Regions from separate parts of the Homo sapiens genome. Here region 1 is linked to region 2. The links come from fine-mapping of genetic effects on gene expression. A gene starts in region 2. The other region holds a variant in brackets. All regions are shown on one strand. Distances are between the middles of the regions. Region 1 has its middle 75 kb from the start of NBPF12. Region 2 holds the start of LINC00624 (long intergenic non-protein coding RNA 624).

What was found. PIP is the estimated chance that this variant, and not a neighbour inherited with it, causes the effect. A credible set is the group of variants that fine-mapping cannot tell apart.
Region 1: its variant is the best candidate, but not a certain one, in a credible set for the expression of LINC00624 in aorta (GTEx, PIP 0.84).

The regions. Positions count from the first base shown.
Region 1 is chr1:146,857,194-146,868,481 of GRCh38, forward strand. It overlaps the pseudogene LOC124900456. Among named protein-coding and RNA genes, the nearest start is that of NBPF12, 75 kb to the right of the region's middle. The variant G/A (reference allele first, on the strand shown) is at 5,280.
Region 2 is chr1:147,513,154-147,524,441 of GRCh38, forward strand. It overlaps LINC00624 (long intergenic non-protein coding RNA 624), which reads right to left and starts at 4,722. Exons shown (of 4, transcript NR_038423.2): 1 at 4,290-4,722; 2 at 2,368-2,523; 3 at 1,185-1,295. RefSeq lists a silencer at 2,919-3,119.

The DNA.
Region 1 (11,288 bases), 660 kb before region 2:
CCTGCATGGTACCTTTCACCATCAGCTCCACTGCCAGCTGGCCTGGCCACTCATTTTCTAATTTCAAACTTCTGAGGGAGAAATCTGGCTGGCCCGGCTAATCATATTGTCTTTGGCTGTGTGCCCAGCTATTGACAAGTATGGGGATTGTCTTTCCTTGGAATGGGTACCAACTCTTTGGTCCAGTCAGCTATGGCACAGCCATGCCATCCAAAGACATGGCACAAAACACGACAGCTTAGCCAGCAGAAGCTGTGGATGGGGGAGACTCCCTTAGGAGGACATGTGGGCAGGTCAGATAGACATTGACGTTTCTGGTACAGCCACACCTACATGCCCTTACATGGACTATAGAAAGGTAGCAATAGCCTGGTAACATCAACTCTCATGACCCTCGTGCTGACAAGTCTCCAGGGACATGTGGAGTAAGCATACAGAAGTGTCTTTTACCACTCTGTTCCAAATTGTCTTCTTAGATCGTGTTCCAGTTCACACCTTTCCATCTGGGCATCACTGAGTCATCATGGACCTTCCTAATTCCCGAGCACAACATCACAGTCCCTTTCCTGCTGGTAGGCAAAACTACCGAACCTCTCATCTCTCTGAACAAGTCACACCTCAACTTCAGCTCTCTCCTCATTGGTAAGGCTGTCCTGATGGTATGTATTTAGAGTTGGCATGATCTGGGCAAGGTCATCAAGAGCTCTGGGAGCAGCCTTGCATAAGAAACCTCTCCTGGTCCCTTCCAGAAGCATATCAGAGGGTCTTAATCAGTTTTTAAAAAGCCACAAAATATTTACTGCTCAATCTAATTTCCACCAAGTATCTTTTAAACCTACAATTAATAGCTTAAGGAAATTTAGGAGCCTTGTTAAAGATCCTACTTGGCAGATTCCTTTAAGGCATGGGCTGACTGTTTATTTCTAGAGCCTCAAGTTGGCCCATCCTTCCTGCATTTGCCCCCAGATTATGGGGGGTATCTGTATGCTTCTTGGTCTGTGCCACAGTGGTCAGATTTCTCTCTCATCCTTTCGTGCATTTATTTGGTTCAACAAATATCACTGAGTCTGTAGAATGCCCTCGGTACTTTTCTATGGGCTGGGATTACGCTAATGGATAAAGCCCAAAGTCCGTACCTTCCTGATGCTTACATTCTAGAAATAAGAAACAGGCTACCAAAAGAAACATAAGGAAACTATACACCATGTCAGATGGTAATAAGTGCTTTAGAGAAGAGGACAGCAGGGTAGGGAGAATAAGGAAGGCCAGGAGGCAGTGGGAAGGTGAAACGAAGTAATTGTCATGTCCCTTATAACCCCATGTATCTTTCCCATGGTTGTGACATCTCTGCTGTGTGTATAAAATACAACTAAAGCCAGAGTATGTTTTAATAATATGTTAGATTTGTATTTGTAAAATAATATTCTTATAGTAAATCCACCAATGTGGTGTTGCATAAGAAAAAGTTTAATCTCTCCACATTCATCCTGTCTCATCTTTCTCTTTCCACTCCAAAGGAAAGCAGTGTTAACTGCTGGATGTGTATTTTTACCGATACATATAATTAGGTGGGAGGGGGAATTATGGCATTTATTAAGATTTTGAACAAATAAGCAATGTAGCATAAGAATAACAACAGTGAGACAGAGTTTAATCCAGGAATTCAACAGTGGTACGTTTGAATATAATCATTACATCAATAGATTAAAGAAGAACAACCATGTGATCATGTTAATATACACTGAAAAGGCATTGCCAAAATTTAGCAGACATTCCCAACAAAAACTCTAATAGCAAAATGGACATTGATGGAAAAAAAGGTTAACCAAAATCAAGAGGCAGATATGATCCTGCAATAAATGACTAAAACTGCTTCAATTAAAATGAGGAATTAGGTAAGGGTGTTCATTATCACCCTTATTATTGAACACTTGCTTAGAGACTTTAGCAAATATGACAAAACAAGAAAATTAAATAATTTGCATAAACATTGGGGAAAAAGGGATAAAGTCATCTTGTTTTGCTTTTACTGATGATTTTGTACACATAAAACCACAAGAGACTCTAGAGAAAAAGCAAAACAAACTACTAGACTCAACAGAATAATGTGGTAAGGTGGGCAGATGCAAGACAAATGTGCAAAAATAGTGTCTTCTTTTTTAGCACTAGCACCTAGAAACAGAAAACCAAAGAAAACATCCACTTGGTACTGGCAAAACCTATAAAATAGCTAAGGATAAATGTAATAAGACATGCACAAAAAAGACCTACATGAAGAAAACTATCAAATCTGATTAAAATCCCCCAAACAAGATCTGATCATTTGTTAGTTCTCCTAAAATTAAATGCAAATTTAATCAAGTTCCAATTAGAATCCCAACTAGGGTTGCCAGATAAAATACAGGATGCATAAATTTTAATTTCAAATAGCAATTAATAATTCTGAGTAAGTCCAAATATTGCTCGGGACATATTTATACCAAAAAATTATTTGCTAAATCTGTCAACCAAATCCCAAAAGAATTGGAAGGGGAGAGAACTGGATAAAATGATTCTAAAGTTTATGTGGAAAAATGAATGGTCTAATAGCCAAGAGGAAAGCGTAAGATGATAGTGAGAGAAAATGTATTAGTCAGAGCCCTGGGCAGGAAACTCATGCCAATACCAAAGGTCTATTTTCAAAGAATTCGATGCAAGAATTATTTACAGATACATGGGCAGTTAAGGGGGTCAACCAAGGAGAGTGAAGCCCCCATTAACAAATTCAGGAAGGCATTACAATTCTTGGGTCTAAAGGAGCAAGGGAAGAAAACGGTGTCACCAGAATCCCAGGAGAGCTGTGGCCAGGGCAGAGGAGCCACTCAGCAGAAGCAGGCAACTGATGAAGAAAGACATGGAATTCCCGAAAGAAGGAAGGTGACTTGTAGAGGAAAAGGAAAGAAGAGAGGTAGACAAAGGCGGAAGAGGTTGGGGAATGTCTTCTAAATGTCTTGCCTGTGAAGCGGTGTCTGCTGAGAGACTCCAGCAGGCAGTCAGGAGGCCCCCACTAAGGGCTGGTGTTTCCTCCTCAGGCAGAGAAGCCAGGGAGACTGTGCAGATCATCAACAAGGAGGAGCAGGGGTTCGATTTTTCCTTCCAGGACAACTCCCGCTATTCTGAAGGTTTCAGCAACAGCCTGCTTGTATGTCCCATGGAAGGCTGGATCCCACCACTGTCCAGGTAAACAAAAATGAAGGTCTCATTTTGTTTGCATCCTCCTGACATGCCCAGGACCCCAAGCCTGCCAGTGCTTACAGTGCCCCATTTATATAATTGCTTTCAACTCTAAGATTAGATCATAACAATTCCATCTCCATCCTACTTACTCCCTGATATCTGTTTTCCTGATGAATATGGAGCATTGAGAATTCTAAGCCCTTTATCTCAATATTTTCTCTTTGTATTCTTTTCCTTGCTATATTCACTGTATATGTGAATCCACAGTGCAATGTTCAGGCTTGCCTGGCAAGTCTCTTTTTCAATTAAACATTTAATTTTCAGGCCAGGCATGGTGGCTCATGCCTATAATCCCAGCACTTTGGGAGGCTGAGGCAGGCGAATCACTTGAGGTCAGGAGTTTGAGACCAGCCTGGCCAACATGGCAAAACCCAATCTCTATTAAAAGTACAATAATTAAGGCTGCGGCAGGCAGATCATTTGAGGTCAGGAGTTCCAGACCAGCCTGGCCAACATGGTGAAACCCCGTCTCTACTAAAAATACCAAAATTAGCCAGGCGTGTTGGCGGGCGCCTGTAATCCCAGCTACTCGAGAGACTGAGGCAGCAGAATCGCTTGAACCTGGGAGACATAGGTTGCAATGAGCTGAGATCGCACCACTGCACTCTGGCCAGGGTGACAAGAGCGAAACTCCCTCTCAAAAAAAAAATTAATAAATAAATACAATAATTAGCCGGGTGTGGTGGCACACACCTGTAATCCCAGCTACTTGGGAGGCTGAGGCATGAGAATCACTTGAACCCAGGAGGCAGAGGTTGCAGTGAGCTGAGATTGCACCACTGCACTCCAGCTTGGACAATGGAGTGAGACTCTCTCAAAAACTAATAATAAAATTTAAAAATTTGAAGTAATTGTAAATTTACATGTAGTTGTAAGAAATAATAGAAAGACTGCCGGGCATGGTGGCTTACACCTGTAATCCCAGCACTTTGGGAGGTCAAGGCGGGTGGATCACCTGAGGTCAGGAGTTCGAGACTAGCCTGGCCAACATGGTGAAACTCCGTCTCTACTAAAACTACAAACGTTAGCCAGGCGTAGTGGCACATTCCTGTAATCCCAGCTACTTGGGAGGCTGAGGCAGGAGAATCGCTTGAACCCGGGAGGCAGAGGTTGCAGTGAGCCAAGATTACCTCACTGAACTCCAGAGCAAGACTTTGTCTCAAAAAAAAAAAAAAAAGAAAGAAAGAAAGAAGAAGAAATAAGACAAAGATAACTCTGTACTGTTTACCAAATTTCTCCCAAGGGTGACATCTTGCAAAGCTTCAGTAAAATGTCACAACCTGGTATTGACATTGACGAGTCAAGACACAGAACAGATCCCTTGCCGCAGGATTCCTCATGTGACCCTTTTGTTGCCACACCCTTTCCCTTCCCCCAAGCAACACCTCCTCACCCTCTGGAATCCAATACTTTCCTCTGTGTCTATCATTTTGTCATTTCAGGAATGTTGTATTCACAGACACATACATTCCTTTTGTGATTGGCTTTTTTCACTCATAATTCTCCAACATACATCCAGGTAGTTTTGAGAGTTTCTTCCTTTTTATGACTGGCTACCATTCCATAGTAGGGATGCACCACAGTTAGTTGAACTATTCACCCACTGGAGGACATCTGGATTGTTCCTGGTTTGGGCTGTTATGAATAAAGCTACTATAAACTTTCATGTACAGATTTTTTGTGTCTTCATGTCACTGGGGAAAATGAGCAAGAGTGCAATTAATGGACATACGATAATGGCATGTTTCCAGAAAAAAAAAGAAAAAAAACTGTGAAAATGCTTTCCAGACTGGCTGAACCATTTTACATTCCACTAGTTATCTCTGAATGTTCCAGAATCTCCACAACATCACCAAAATTTAGTGGTGTCACAATTTTTTTATTACTATTTTTAGACAGAGTCTCGCTCTGTTGCCCAGGCTGGAGTGCAGTGGTGTGATCTTGGCTCACTGCAACCCCCGCCTCCCAGGTTCAAGCAATTCTCTTGCCTCAGCCTCCCGAGT[G/A]GCTAGGGCTACAGGCACGCACCACTATGCCCGGCTAATTTTTTTTTTTTTTTTTTTTTAGTAGAGATGGGGTTTCACCATGTTGGCCAGGCTGGTCTCGAGCTCCTGACCTCAAGTGATCCACCCGCCTTGGCTTCCCAAAGTGCTGGGATTACAGGAATGAGCCACTGCAACCGGCAACAATTTTTTATTTTAGCTTTTCTGATAGATGTGTAAGGATATCTCATTGTAGTTTTAATTAGCATTTTCCTAATGACTAATAATGTCGGACATCTTTACATGTGCTTATTTTCTGTATGTGTGTTGTCAGGCCTGAGGGCCTCTTCCGTCATTGTCAAGGGAAATGCTAACCTTCTCTCCTTTCATACAACACATATGTGCTTGTTTTCCTTCTATGGATCCTCCTCAGTGAAATGTCTCTTCATGTCTCTTTCCAGTTTCCTGCTCAGCCTGTTTGTTTTTTATTGTTGATTTTTGAGAGTTCTTTACATGTTTAGGTAGTGCTCCTTTGGTGGATACATGATCTGCAAATATCTTCTCCCAGTCTGTGGCTTGTCTTTTGCTCTTCTTAACAAGGTCATTCACAGAGCAAAACCTTTTATTCTTGATGAAGTCCAAATTATCTATTTGTCCTTTTATGGACTGTCCTTTTAGTGTCTGTTCTATATCTCTGAATAGCCCTAGATTCAGAAAATGTCCTTCCATTATTTTTTCCGTAAGTTGTGTAGCTTTACATTTCAGTCTGTAACCCCTTTTTTATTAACTTATAAGGTATGAGATTTACGTCAAAGTTTTGTGGGGTTTTTTCAACTTTTATTTTAGTTTCAAGGGATATGCATGCAGGTTTGCTACTGGATTTACTGTATAGGTTTGGGGTACACATGGTCCCATCACCCAGGTACTGAGCTTAGTACCCAATCGTTAGTTTTTCAACTCTTGCCTCCCTTCCTCCCCTCCCCCTAGTAATCCCCAGCTTCTTTTGTTGCCATCTTTACGTCCATGTGTACCTGATGTTTAGCTGCAACTTATAAATAAGAACATGAGGTATTTCACTTTCTGTTCCTGCATTAATTTGCTTAGGATAATGGCCTCCAGCTGCATCCATGTTGCAGCAAAGAATTACCTCATTCTTTTTGTGGCTGTGTAGTATTCTACGGTGTATATGTACCACACTTTCTTTATCCAGTCTACAGTTGATAGGCACCTAGATTGATTCCATGTCTTTGCTATTGTGAATAGTGCTGCAATGAACATGAGAGTGCATGTTGTCTTTTTGGTAGAATGACTTTGGGTTTTTTGGCTTTTTTGTTTTGTTTTGTTTTGTTTTTTATGAGATTGCTTTGTTTTTTGTAAAGAGATTGCTGTGTTGAATGATAGTTCTGTTTTAAGTTCTTAGAGAAATCTCCAAACTGCTTTCCACAGTGGCAGAACGAGTTTACATTCCCACCAATAGTGTATAAGTGTTCCCTTTTCTCTGCAGCCTCGCCAGGATCTGTTGTTTTTTATTTCTTAATCATAGCCATTCTGACTGGTGTGAGATGTTATCTCATTGTGGTTTTGACTTGCATTTCTCTGATGATTAGTAATGTGAAGCATTTCTTTATATGTTTGTTGGCCACTTTTCTGTTTCCTTTTGAGAAGTGTCTATTCATGTCTTTTGCCCATTTTTTAATGGCGTTACTTGTTTTTTGCTTCTTCAATTGTTTAAGTTCTTTAGAGATTCTGGATATTAGACCTGTGTCAGATGCATAGTTTCTGAATAATTCCTCCCATTCTGTAGGTTGCATTTTTTCTCTGTTTGTAGTTTCTTTTGCTATGCAGCAGCTTTTTTCCTTTCTTACTCTTTTTTTTTTTTTTTTTTTTTTTGCAGGATTGATTGGGTCCCACTTGTCGATTTTTGTTTTTATTGCAAGTGCTTTTGAAGACTCATTCATAAATTCTTTCCCAAGGCTGATGTCTACAATGGTGTTTTCTACGTTTTCTTCTAGTTTTCGTATAGTTTGAGGTCTTACATTTAAATCTTTGATCCATCTTGAGTTAATATTTGTATATGGTGAAAAGTAAGGGTCTTATTTTATTCTTCTGGCTTATGGCTAGCCAGCTATCCCAGCATCATTTATTGAATAGGGAATCCTTTCCTCATTGCTTATTTTTGTTGACTTTTTCAAAGATCAGATGATTGTAGGTGTGTGACTTTATTTCTGGGATCTCTATCTTTTTCCATTAGTCTGTGTGTCTGTTTTTATGCCAGTACCACGCTGTTTTGGTTACTATAGCCACAAATCTTAAAATGTCATCATAATTTGGAGTTTCCTTTTCCTCGTAATGAATCTGCTAATTCAGTAGGCTCATATTTTTTAAGGTTTTGACAAGTTGGCCTAGTCAGGTAATCTGCTGTTTTGTTCCCCAACCAGGTTCCCAATTGATATTTTCTTCACTCCAAAGCAGCAAGGAGATGTGAACTTTAATTTGATCTGCAATGTGGAAAAGAAAGTCCACCCTGTGACATTAAATGTCAAGGCCGAGGGCTACACTATGAATGTGGAGATCAAGTGCAAGGACAGGACAGGCTCCATCACTCTGTTGACTCCCAACCAGACTAACATCATCAACTTCTATGAGGTAAAGGTGTAAGAAGACCTTGCTATCTATCTCAGCTTCCATTCTGACTGGGGAAAGTAGTAAAAATGAATATGAGCTGAGTCTTTCTGCTTCAAATGCCAGAGAGACCAGGAAAACAGAAACACTCCAAGAGCAGCTCTATCCCCAGAATGTATGTAGATATGATGTGAATGCTTTTCTTATTTTATTTTCAGGGGGGGTGGAGAGATGGTGGGGAGAAGAAAGAGTGCTTGTGTTAAACATACAGGAAGGATATTTGACTACCAACAAAGGACTAAGAACTAAATTGCCACTTTGCTCCATGAGATATTGAAAGAACCCCAATACTTAGTAGCTCCTGCTGGAATATCTGACTCCATTAAGCTAAAGATAGTCAAATCACCAACATCATCTGCCATCCTTATTTCCCAAAGGATATTTTTCATCAACATGTTACAAATGCTGACCCCAGACAAGGGAACTATGGTTTGCATTCACTGCTCTGTTCTCTGTCTCCTAGGTGGAGTTAAATGAATGTGTCCAGTGTGAATTCAACTTTATCAACACTGGAAAGTTCACCTTCAGCTTCCAGGCACAGCTGTGTGGCTCCAAAACCTTGCTGCAGTACTTGGAATTTTCACCCATCGACAGCACTGTGGATGTAGGACAGAGTGTACATGCCACCCTGTCTTTTCAACCATTAAAGAAGTGTGTCTTGACAGACCTGGAACTCATAATCAAGGTGAGTCCATTTAACATTGTCCAAACTCCAAAAGTACTCTCAGCATGCTGCCTTGGCAAGTTAATTCTCCTGTGTGTTCTTTGTCTTCTCCATGTGTCCAGAAGCTCCTAGAGGGTAGCTGTGTTGGACACAGCCTCACAATGTCTAGTACAAAGGCTTCAACAATGGTTAGGTGCCTGGGGAGTAAGTGTGGATTGAAAAGCAATTATATTGCAATACATTCACCCACTAAAATAAATAAAAGTGATAGATGGGGCAGGGAAAGAATATGTACAATGTTTTCTAAGATGAATTATTGAATGAAAAAAAAAAAAAGAATGGTGATGTCAGCAGGAATGGCAGAGAAGGACATCCAAAATGCTGCTTTTCAATAGCAATGAGACCACTGGAAAAAATTTTCGAAATCAACTTTTTCAGAACTCTGAAAATTAATAATAGGCTTGCAACAATTCTCGGAGTATTTATTCAAGAAAAATGGCTGAATACCCATAAAGGCAGTGAGCTTTGTGGTATTTTGACTTGCCCTATTCTCTCCCTCCTCCCTCATCCCAGCTCTGCAGTAGCCTTGAAAACCAACAATTTGGCAATCAAAGTGAAAGTCAGCAATCAATCAGACCCTGGAGGAGGTAGAACAGATTGCAACTCCCCAAAAGCCCCCATTCTAAAAGAGTTGTCACTATTTGACCTGTCTAGAAGTTCAGTGAAACCCCCCCTCATAGGGATAGCTTTTATTTGACCTGACTCCAGGCTTGCTCAAAAACAATCAGTTGTAATTGTTTAACACTGCAGCTGACTGAGGGAGCATTGACCTTAGGAGCAAACAAGAAGTTCATTTAAAAATTTAAAAGGAGAGACTGGGAAGAAGATATTCATGGGGGGCTCTGAAAAGCTTCAGCATATTCCCTGGAATCTAGACAGCCATGCATGTGTAAGATGTGTATACCTCCAGGCTGTTACTGCTCAGGAAAGACCTGAGAAGGCCCTAAGCTCTTACCTCTGACTAACCTTTGGGTCCCAGGAAAGATAAAGCAGAATTGGCAACTGCCTGCCTGAGTGTCAAAGGCATGTCCTGCCACACACACACAGCCCCTCAGCAAAAGCTGGGAGACTTATTGGTTCCAGGCATTTAAGGGAATCTCTGTTCAATCATAAGCTGACCATTAAACTAACTGAGCAGAAACTTTATTGGCCATGCATAAATAAGAATATAGACTTTACTGAAAAAGTTACTAAACAAACTAAGAGTAACAACAGTAACCAACCCTGGGGGAGGGAGGATCTGATTTTCACAGTTGCCACATTTATTATTTTAAATCTCCAGTTTCTGACTAAAAAAATATGAGCCATGAAAAGATACAAGAACATATAACTCATATACGGGGAAAAAAGCAATGAATAGAAATTGTCTCTGAGGGAGCCCAGATGTTGGACTTAATAGACAAATACTTGAAACCATCTATTTAAAATATGTTCAAAGAACTATAGGACACCATGTCTAGATAACTAAAGCAAAGTATGAGAACAATGTCTCACCAAATAGAGAATATCAATAAAGATATAGAAATTATAAAAATATACATTTTGGAGTTGAAAAACATAATAGCTGAAATGAAAAATTTCACAACAGGGGCTCAATAGCAGATTTGTTATGGTAAAAGAAAATCAGCTGTGGCAGATGGGATAAAATTGTTGAAAAGAAAAAGAAAAAATCAGCAAACTTGAAGATGGAGCAATTGAGATTATCCAATATGAAGAACAAAAAGGAAAAAGAATGAAGAAAAATGAACAGAAGTTCAGATTCCCATAAGAGATTATCAAGCATAGCAAAATACATGTAATGGGAATCTCAGAAGGAGAGAAGAGAGAAAATAAGAGAAAGAATATTTCAAGAAAGAACACCCTAAAACTTCCCAAATTTAATGAAAACAATTAAATATCCAGAAAGCTGAATTCTGAGTAGGATAAACTCAAAAAAATCCACACCTAGACACATCATTACCAAACTGTTGAAATACAAAGACAGATCATCTGGAAGGCAGAAGGATTAATGGCTGGTTTCTCATTAGAAACTTCGGAGGCCTGAAGACAGTGTGATGACATATTCAACGTGCTGAAAAAAAAAATTATCAACAAGGAATTTTATATCTAGTAAAACTATTTCTAAATAGTTCCCATTATTCTGCCGATTTTGGGGAACAATTTAAAAATGAAGGATAGACCAGGACACTCTCAGATAAATAAAACCTGAAAGAATTCATCACTAACAGACTGGCCTACAAGAAGTAATAAAGGGAATCCTTCAGACTGAAATGAAAGGACACTAAAGGATAACTCAAATCCACATGAAGAAATATAGATCACCAGTAAAGGTAACTGCATAGGTTATATAAAATCAGTATAAATGTATTTTTATTTACAACTTTTTCTATCTGATTTAAAAGACAACTGCATATAGCAATAACTATAAATCTGTATTAGTGGGCCTTATATAAAGATGCAATTTGTGTGGTAATAGCACAAAGAAAGAGGAAGTAACAGAGCTATATAAGAGCAAAAGTTTTGCCTATTATTGAAATTAAGTTGTTATTAAATGTAAAGACCATCGAGACTAGGAGGAAACTGCATCAACTAACGAGCAAAATCACCAGCTAACGTCATAATGACAG
Region 2 (11,288 bases):
TTTCTCAGATTTGGATTGACTTATGGTGGGCAATGACTCTCCTTCAGCTTTGGGTAGAGAATTGTTCACTACCACTGTCTACATCTCTGTACACCTTGATTGTTCTATGTGTTTCATTGAGTTTGTCTTTTTTTTTTTTTTTTTGAGACGGAGTTTCACTCTTGTCGCCCAGGCTGGAGTGCAGTGGCGTTATCTCGGCTAACTGCAAGCTCCACCTCCCAGGTTCAAGTGATTCTCCTGCCACAGCCTCCCCAGTAGCTGGGATTACAGGTGCCCGCCACCATGCCTGGCTAATTTTTTATATGTTTAGTAGAGACGGGGTTTCGCCATGTTGGGTAGGCTAATCTCAAACTCCTGACCTCAGGTGATCCGCCCGCCTCGGCCTCCCAAAGTGCTGGGATTACAGGCATCAGCCACCACACCCGGCCAAGTTTGTCATCATTCTTTTGAAGTTATGCTTTTCTGAATTATAGGGGGACAGTATAAACTATTGTTTAACCAAGAGTTTAAAGATTTGCAAATGTCTTCAGAAGTATAAATATTCACAAAGGGAAAGTGTCTCCTGACTTTAGAGAAATGTAGAAGTACCCCACTGGGTATGAGTAAGTTCTCCAGAGTCTCTCTTTAACCTAGCTCTAGGGTAGGATAGAGGTGGAGCCAGAAGGGTCTGTGTCTGCAGTTTTGACAGTGTTACCCTTCTTCAGCCTCCTGCACAGTGAGTGACCTCCAAGGATTATTCAGGGTTTGGGAACAGAGAATTGTAAAATATTTTAGATGGGCCAACCTTTTCTCAAAATCCTCTTCAAAGGAAAATTAGCCTCTTCCTCACCATTGCCTTCTGTGCTGAGGAAGAGGACCTGCTGCTCCTTGAAGGAGGGTGGCCATTTCGATACCACAAGAGCCTACTCTGCCCTTTGACTGGATGCCTGGCCAACTCCTGACATTAAGGCAGCAAGCAATCCCAGTACTGCACAAAGTTCTGCAGCAACAGAAGTGATGATTAAATAGGGCAATGGGTTCTCTTGGGAATACGAACTGGGAAATTCCAAAAATCAATCAGTATCATGAGAAACATCAGGAAGAACACAGAAGAGCAGCCCAGGCATGCTCGTGGTGAACAGCACAGAGATGAAGGGCCACCTCAGTGTTAGATCCTTCCAGTGTCCATATGACATTTCACTCACCAGGATGCCACTGGTGCCAGATGCTCCTGTGATGTGCCTCTCTCTCTCATCGCCACAGGTATGCTGCAGTAAGCCCCCACTGACTAAGGTAGCCTGAGGGAGTGTCAGCTCCTGGAAAACAAAAAATCACCATACTGTCAGAGCTGGTCACTTAGTCAGTGCTACTCAAAGTGTGGTCCAAGGACCAGTGGAATCCACCACTGTTCCAGTGTGCAGAAACAAAGCATAGAAACAAAATATGCATTTGGAAATCTTTAAATAGGAATTTGACCTTGCCCCAGCATCCAATTTTATGTCTGTTAAATCTAATAATAAAAAGTTGAGCTTGCATTTCATAAGTCTATGGGAGTTTTTTCATTTCATTTTTCTAATAATTTATTTTTATTGTGTTTTACAAAAGCATCAGTCAGTATGTGAAGGACTGAAAACTGTCAAATATTTAAAAACTGGTGCTTCACAACAGACAGTTTGAGGAGCACTGATCTAGTCCCGTTTACAAACTGTGAATCCTTGACCCATTCGTGGGTAGTAACCCATTAAGGAGTCACGAAATTAATTTGTGTGGATACCAGCATTAACAAAGAATAGAATAAAAAGTATCAGGGTACATTGCATGAATACAGGATTAAGTTCTTTTTTGTGAAATTTTTATTTTAAAAAGCATATGCAAATACATATGCACATACACACTTGTATATTTTTGCATGTATATAAAACAGAAAAAGGAACCTGGGATGCCCATGTTTTATTGTAAAAGATACTTCTGCTTTTCTAACAGTTGTAAGGAAAATGTCTGCACATATTTGGAAAACTATGTGTTGTCCATCACACACCCTTCTGCTATCTTTTATCTGATTTGGATTCTATGGGAGCTATTTCACAACTTTGTAAACTGTAGCTAGCTGATAGCATTGCAAAATAATTATTCTCTGTAAACATTCAAGTTTTGTCCCTTCTGGTAGAGGTTCAATTGATTCCCGCTCCCTCTGTGGAAGAAGTCAGTTTTGCCCTTTTTTTGTGCATTCAATATTCTTGATCTATACATGTTCTTTGTATTCTCTTTTGATCCAGTTATAATATCTGCCTAGTTCTCTCATAGATTGAGTTAAATAAAATCTCTAACACATGTTCATGTTCAATCTGTATGAGTCATGATTCTATGTTTCGTTTTTTTTTAAATTACCTTTTAACGTAGGTCACAGTAGAGCTTTCATGCATCAGGTGGCAGTGTTTGTTCAAACTTAGGTCAACTGTAATGAAATGGGATACCTCAACAGGAAGGCAAACCTGGATCCCTAGCAAGGCAGAGGGACTTCCTGGTTTAACTTTGTGCTGTTGCCTAGAGGAATCAAAAGGAAGGGGAGAATTTTATTGTGAAAGACCACATGCCAGCAATGATTTTAACTGCTGCTCTGTAAGATCCCTCCCACGCCTTGTTCTCATGATGTTTGAAATACACATCTCTTTTACTACAGTTCAGAAAAATCTGAAGATACAAATGAATATGGACTAGGCAAATTAGAAGTACGAGGTCTCAGACATAGCAAGAAAGAACACCAGCCTGAGAACAAAAAATTTAGGTTCTAGGCCCAACTTGATCCCTAATGAGCTGTATGATTTGATTTTAAGCATGTGACTTAGCTTCTCTGGGCCTCTTATTCTTTATCTGTACATTAATTTACTTAAGTTGGTAGTTTTCAATTCTTTTTCAGGCATAACAACTTTTTTTTTCAAAACAAAGCTTGTACACAGTTTTAATGTGCAAAACAAGACAACAACTCTGGTTTAGTAGGGTGTCTGCTTGGTTTCAACTCCTCCACTATGGTGGCCTCTAATTATAGGGGCCCCTCAGAACTGTGAGGATTCCAAGATAGCACGGTCTGAGAAGCATGGAATCCAAGAGCACTAACATTCTTCCTAATGCTGCGATGTTCCAGTCAATTACTTTGTCTCTGGTTTAAGAGCATTCAAAATCTTTTCCAAGTTGTTCCACCCTTTCCTTCCTTGCCCCATCCCCACCCTGTTGAGTATTTCCAATTTTAGCTCTGACCTTTAGAGTCCTTGTTCTATCTTCATTCAGTTCCTTCAACTGCTGGGATCCACCCCACAGGTTTGGTCCAAAACAACCTATGGGGTGTATTCCACTGTATTCTAATTATCTGTTTAATTATCTGCTTCCCCAACCAGACTGAGTTTCCTGAGAGTGGGTGTCTTGTCTTCTCACCTTTGTCTCCCAGGTCCAGTGCGGTGCCTCGCCCTCTTCTCTATTCTCAGTACACACTGTCTGAGTTCTTCTCTCTACCTTACCTATGTATGTTCTACCCAGATCTCTCTCCTCAACTTCAGCCTCTCTTGTACAACTACTTTCCAGACAATTCCACTTTGGGTATCTCATAGGCTCTTCAAAAGCAGCACATCCAGTTCTACAGCTTCCATTCAGAATATTTACCTCCTCCTAAAGTCCTATCTCAAGAAAATATGCTGCAACCTACCTGCTGCTGCCCAAGCCAGAAACCCTTGACACCTCACTTTCTTTCATTTCCACTTCCACATCCAACCCTTTAATTCCACCTCCTACCATTTTTTAATCCATCTACACTTTTTTTAGAGATGGAGTCTTGCTATGTTGCCCAAGCTAGACTTAAGTGATCCCCATCTCAGCCTCCTGAAAAGCTGGAGCTACAGGTGTGTGCCACAGCACCAGCGATCTGTCTTTCCATTTCCACTACTGTTGCCCAAGTTAAGATCACATGGATAATAACAGATCATTTTGATGGTGCTTCCAGGGTGCCAACTGTTGCAAAAATAATAAAACCCTTTTCATACATTAGATCCTTGAATGTGCGTATCTGCTCTGGTTATTACTGTAGCCCCATTTTACCATTAAGGAAATTGAAATTTAAAGAGAATAAATAACTTACCCAAGCTGGTAAGGGTTGGAGCTGAGAATTTAGTCCGTCTCTCCAATGCCAATACTCTAGCCCTTACCTATAATACAACAACTGAAATATTAACTGGTGTTGTATCCCTACTATCAGCTTTGCCTTCCAAGTCTTTTTTTTCCCGTTCTACAGCCCAGAGATTTTTTAAAAATAGAAATCTTACTGTGTGCGGAATTCATTCCTTCTGGTGGGTTCTTGGTCTCGCTGTCTTCAAGAATGAAGCCACGGAGACTCCCGGTGAGTGTTACAGTTCTTAAAGATGGTGTGTCCGGAGTTTGTTCCTTCAGCTGTTCAGATGGGTCCAGAGTTTCTTCCTTCTGGTGGGTTCGTGGTCTCACTCACTCCAGGAATGAAGCCGCAGACCCCGGCGGTGAATGTTACAGCTCTTAAAGATGGCGCATCACAGTTGTTTGTTCCTCCCGGTGGGTTCGTGGTCTCCCTGACTTAAAGAACGAAGGCACAGAACCTCGCGGTGAGTGTTACAGCTCACAGAGACAGTGCGGACCCAAAGAGTGAGCAGCAGCAAGACTTATTACGAGAGTGAAAGAACAAAGCTCCCACAGCAGGACACCAGAGGGCAGCGGGTTGCAGCAGCTGGCTGGGTGCTCCGCGTGGCCAGCTTTTATACCCTTATTTGCCCCGCCCACATCCTGCTGATTGGTCCATTTTACAGAGAGCTGATTGGTCCATTTTACAGAGTGATGATTGGTCCATTTTACAGAGAGCTGATTGGTCCATTTTACAGAGTGCTGATTGGTCCATTTTTACAGAGTGCTGATTGGTGTGTTTACAATCTTCTAGCTAGACAGAAAATTTCTCCAAGTCCCCCACTCGACACAGGAAGTCCAGCTGGCTTCACCTCTCCTTATCATGTGTCCTCCACTTAAAATTCTTCATTATTTTTCCTTTGCCCAGGGATACAATAGAAATGTGTTAATATCTCACTATGCCCTTCATAATCTGTATCTGGTGTCTTTTCTTGCTACTGTCACCCTTGGCTTCAGTCATACTGAACCGTTTATGATTTGGGGGGCATATATTGCAGTATCTTCCATTCGTCCTCCATATCTTCTTTTTCCTCTGCTTGAGAAATTCTTTATTTCCCCCACCTCTTTACCCAGCCAGCTCCTAGTTATACTTCAGTTCTCAGCTCAGAAATGTTCAACTCTAAAGAAACACTCTGTGACCATTCCTGTTCCCAGAGCACCATGAATCTTCTGAAGCTACCATTGTGACTCTACATTATAAATGCTTGTGTATTTGTCTGTATCCTCCCCCAGTACAAGTTCCCAGAGGGAGACTACTTCTGATTTATTCAGCATTGCCCATTGTCTTAACTTGGGTTCCTTAGAAGAAGACCCTGAGGTGAGAATTCTTCTTACTCAAGTGATTTATTGAGGATGAAATTCATATGAGTGAGGGAAACTGGATAGGGCTGGGGAGATCAGTCAAGCTGTGGGTCTAGCCTCAGCCTGATTCCAGGGGGCACTTTGGAGCTTGAATAACATCACAGAGTCAGCCCACTTGAGACAAGGGGACTGTGCTTTTACCCCCATCCCCAACAACTGGGCATTGGCTGCAAGCTGCTCCTAGAGTGTGTGTGTGTGGGATGAAGGCAGCATAATCTCCCAGGCATAGCTGGGGGGAGTGCTTCCCTGCTGCAGGGCTCCAGAGAAGGGTGCAGCTGTGACTCCTTAGTAACTGGGGGATGCGTGCTCCACCAGACAACAGGGGTCTACTACATACCCCAGCTGCTAGAACATGTCCTACCACATCATACTCAATACATGCCAAAGAAAGAAATGAGAGAATTTTTTCATTCATCTATTTCTCATTTATTCCCAGCTGAATGATTTTTCTAGTGGATTACATTCTCTAATATTCCCAATCTTGATTTTTTTTAAAGCCTCTCAATTTTCTTCCACCTTTCCTGAACACTAACCACTTTATAAGATTTCCAAACTTGGGTAACTCTAGTTTCTCACCTCATGTGCTTCGTTTAGTTCTAGTTTCTCACCTCATGTGCTTCATTAAGTTCTAGACAAACATGAGCACGGCCATTAATATTTCTACAACTTAATTAGTTGTTTAAGGTCTGACTGGTTACCGGTCAAAATGTACACATCTTCTCAAATTGAGTGGGACTTATGGGGAGAAGGTTTCTGTCAATTAGGAGAAAATTTGATTTTTTTTCTTTTTTTTTTGATGGAGTCTTGCTCTGTCGCCCAGACTGGAGTGCAGTGGCGCGATCTCGGCTCACTGCAAGCTCTGCCTCCCAGGTTCATGCCATTCTCCTGCCACAGCCTCCCGAGTAGCTGGGACTACAGGCGACCGCCACCACGCCCAGCTAACTTTTTTTGTATTTTTTGTAGAGATGGGGTTTCACCATGTTAGCCAGGATGGTCTCAATCTCCTGACCTTGTGATCTGCCTGCCTCAGCCTCCCAAAGTGCTGGGATTACAGGCGTGAGCCACCACGCCCGGCCGTATTTTTTTTTTTAGTTTTTTTTTTTTGAGACGGAGTTTCGCTCTTGTTGCCCAGGCTGGAGTGCAATGGGTCATCTCAGCTCACTGCAACCTCAGCCTCCCGGGTTCAAACAATTCTCCTGCCTCAGCCTCCCCAGTAGCTGGGATTACAGGCATGCACCACCATGCCCGGCTAACTTTGTATTTTTAGGAGAGACAGGGTTTCTTCTTGTTGGTCAGGCTGGTCTCGAACTCCCAACCTCAGGTGATCCTCTCACCTTGGCCTCCCAAAGTGCTGGGATTACAGGCATGAGCCACCACGCCCAGCCTGGAAAATTTGATTTTTAAACCGTTTGTCTAGAACAATTTGCTCCAAAATATCTACATATATCCTACCTGGGGGGTCTACCCAGAGAGATCTGTGAATTCTCTGTAATCCATGAATGCATATTCCAGGCTGTGTGCCCTTACCTATGGCAGTCAGCTGCCACCTGCTCAGATGGATGGACACCAGCAGCCTCCTCCCTGATTGGGAAGTTAGACCACATGGAGGGAAGACGACTTCTTCCCACAAGAAGGTTCCCTTCTGCTCGAGTGGACTGGAGCCCTGAGCTTATTCCTCAAGGAAATTTTCTCTCTGGAAGAAATCCAATCCTATCAGACTCAGACAAAAGGTAAAAGCCTTAAAGGTAGAGATCGGGTCCTGTTCTTTACATAAAAACTAACAATATCTCACACTCAACTGTTTAGAAGTGCTTTCACATATTGTATCTCATCTGATCCTCAATAAAATCCCACCCATGAGAAAACTGAGACACCTAGCAGTCAAGTGACTCACCTAAGATCACGTAGCCAACAAATGGTAGAGCCGTGATTCAAACCCAGGATCTCCGATGCCAAATATGAAGGTCTTTTCAGAGTACCCTGCTGTGTAACACAAGGCCTGGCTTACCATATGCCCTCATTAGCTTTTCGTTGAGTTGAATTACCTACGGCTTCTATTATTCATGTCCAGTGCACCCCTTCTTTAGAATAGATAACAAAAAGTAGATGATGGGCTAGTCTGTGTCAGCTAAAGCATTGTGCCAATGAGGTCCAGGTCATTGGTTCAAATCCCAAAAGACCAGTTACCTTTGTCTCAAAATGGCAGTAAGCTTAGTTCCGCTGATACAGGCCACTGCCCTAATCACTCATTTTGCCTATGAGTCAACATCAGAGAATGGCAAAAGGATTTGGATAGAGCAGGGCAAGTTCATTACTAATTCTAGAGGGACATTGGGAAGAAAATCTTATTGCTTTTATTTTTGCCCAGGAGAAGGGATAGTGCATCATTGGACTTAGCCACATAAGGCTCTGGGTTGATACATGTGGAGTTGAATTCAGTGACTTGAGTGGATCTGACCCAGGAAGGCATCATGAGGAGGGGGTGTGCCAGGCTGAAGTGAGAAAAAGGGCTGGGAAGAAATGACCAGCTGGAAAGGCCAGTCCAGCACCACCAATGTCTTCAAACAGAAGGCTGCAGAGATAACTTGAAGACCTTGAGGAGCAGGAAAGTGTCATGGTTCTGGAGGTTAAATTTAAAATCCAGAGCCCCAAATAAAACCTTCACTCAGGTTCTCTTCTTCCATTCCTATAACTTAGCTTATGGTGCTGACAAGGAAGCAAATGCTTAAAAAGTGCAGAGCTCTTATTATCTATAATTGTTATACCATTCAATGCAATGAACACTGACAGGCCTGTTTTGCATCCACTGCTGTACAAGCTCCTGGGGTTGGGGTTCATGAAATCTCTGACCATAAGTTATTATCCAAGGAGTGAAATGATCGTAGTATATTATACAGATCAAGCAAAAATAAGTTCTATGTAGTGACTGCTCTGAGAGTTTAAAGGGAAAAGTTGGCTATGGTCAGATTCCTTTAGAAGAACTTCTCAGGAGGGGACTGAGTTAGTCTTTGACGAATTGGCAGGATCTGAATCTGAAGGTGGAGGGAGGTGGAAAGAGGATTCATCCCCTGAATCCAGTGCCCCACATACCTCCTTTGGGCCCACCTTATTGTTTCAGCCATTGCTGTAGCAACCAGCTGTGAGCAAGTGAAACCTGGCCGCGCCGTGTCTTTGGATGCAGAGAGCAGTGTTCACCTTCTGTTCCCGGTTTCTTTGCCACATCTGCCTGCAAGAACCTGCTTGGCCATTCTGATACACATGCAAACCTGAGAGTATGGGGAAGTTATCACCCAAAGGACAATACTGGATCAATGGGAGCAGACGCTGGTAGATTAATACTTCCCTCTTCCACCCTGCAGGCTGCCAAGTCTGAGATGCATTCTACAGGGGCTTCATAGCCTTCTAAGTAGGATTGAGCTCTGGTTGCCCACAGTGACGATCCGATAAAGTAACCATGGATTGGCTTCTCCTTCTTCCTTCTTTCAGCCTTCACAGACCCCAAATGTCCCAATCCTACTTCTTAGCGTAACTCCCCCAATTCAACCACCTGTACAAGCCCTTTTTTGGGAGGGAACATGGAATGAAGTTAAAAATGGGCTTGTTGCTTTTTCCCTATATCCCTGAAAAGTAGCTGTTCCAGAGATAGGAGAAAGCCGAGCAATATGGCACAGGGAGAATGTGCAGATTCTCTTTACTACACCTCCGAAGCCCACAACTGGCTCCCGCATTTGATCAATCCTATGGGGACTTCTCTTAGAGCCACCAGGGGTCTTTAGAGAGCTCCCTGAAGCCTGAGTGATGGGAAGCCTCACACCCATGTGGTAGGGAACATTTCACTGAGAGTGACATAGCCAAGCCCTCCTCTCCTTCCCCAGTTCCTTCAGACATCTGTGAAAGTTTGAAAAGGGTTCTTGCATTCCCAGGCCCAGGACTGCAGGGAGGGAGGAAGCTGACCCTCAGCCTCCCTGAAACATCCTTTGTGGGACTCCCATCCCTACCACCTCTTTAAGTTCTCAGACCTCAGCACTGGGCTGGGATCTTCCCAGAACCACCAGCCCACCCAGCCCCAGAGTGTATTCACCAGAAGCCCTGCTCAGAAGTTGGCCTGATCTTAGTAATAGTCCTGACTCTTTCCGAACATAGATCATGCTGAGTTTTATGCCTCACAAGTGAAGTGTGATAACAAGAACTTGGAGAGGATCTAAAGCAACCAAAGGGCAGGGCATGGTGGCCCATGCCTGTAATCCCAGCACTCTGAGAGGCTGAAGTGGGAGGGTCACTTGAAGCAGGAGGATTGCTTGAGGCCAGAAATTCATGGTTACAGTGAACTACAAGTTGCATTACAGCCTGAGTGACAGAGCAAGATCCTGTCTCAAAAAAAAAAAAAAAAAAAAGTAAAATAAGATAAGCAACCAAAGGGATATGAGTTTGAAAAACAGCTCTAGGCTGCACCCTTAGAGAAGCAGGGCAACTTACCTTCTCGAAAAGGCAGGAAGTACAAGGGTGCCCACTCAGTCCAGAGGAGGACATGATATGAGAGACTGGGGCAGGACAGAACTTTCCTCTTACGAGGATTGTAGAAGGCCTTGAATTTTGTGGGGAGGTAAGAGGAGAAAGATAATTGGAGAGCGTGAAGAAAGGATTGTTAAATAGTTTTTTTCTGGCAACATTTTTAAAAGTTCAGGTAGTTTAAAGATGGCTGAGGCAATGCAATGCTTGGAGAGAGCGGTGGGGGTGGGCTTTTTCTTCGCAGCAATCTCTCTGGCCCTGAGTGCCCCCGTCAGATTCTACCCTTGTACACTTGAAGGCACATGAAAGTGATAAGGAGAAGAAGGGAGAGGGGACAGCAGAGAAGGAAAGGTGAGAGAATGACATTGGTCATTGCTGTGGCGCGCTTCAGGTCACCACAGCCTGCCCACCTGCAGGAATCCTTACAAAGTCTTCCCGGACCTGTAATATGGGACTCTCTTCAGGGAAGCAGTACGGCCTAGGATTAAGACCATTAGCCTGAGAGTCAGACCCAAGGGTCCCAGAGCTGTTTATAGGCTAAACAACCCTTGCTCCACAAATACTTAACTTCCAGGGCCAGTGTTTCCTTATCTAGAATAGGAGCTCCGTGAAGTCTGCCTTATTCTCTACAAGAGCCCTAGAGCCTCGTATTGCACCTGGCAATACATATTTGCTGAATGAATAAATAAATCTATAAAATTAGAATAACCTTATTACCACTCCAAAGGAAGTAAAATCATGATAAGGAACATGGATGCTGGAGCCAGACTCCCTGGATTTGAATCTGGGCTCAGTGGCTTCCATCGCTGCCACTTTGGCAGGTTAGTGAATCTTTCTATGCCTCTCTGTGCCTCAGTTTCCTTGTCTGTGAAATGGGGTTGATAACAGAACACCTACCTCAAAAGGTTAAAACAAGTTAACCTTTTTGTGGGGTTAAAACAAGTTAACCTTTTGTGGGGCTTAAAACAAGTTAATGTATGTGAAATGCATAAAATAGTGCCTGACTATATGTCAGTTCACTATTATTATAAGGGTTAATTGACTAAATCCAGAAAAAATGGTGAGAATTTCATGTTTTTTTCTATATACTTCTGAACTATTCAAATCTCAATCTCTCTCCCTCTCTCTCTCTCGCTCTCTCTCTCTCTCTCTCTCTTTGAGACATAGTCTTGCTCAGCCACCTCCCTCTAGGCTGGAGTGCAGTGGTGTGATCTCGGCTCACTGCAACCTCCACCTCCTGGGTT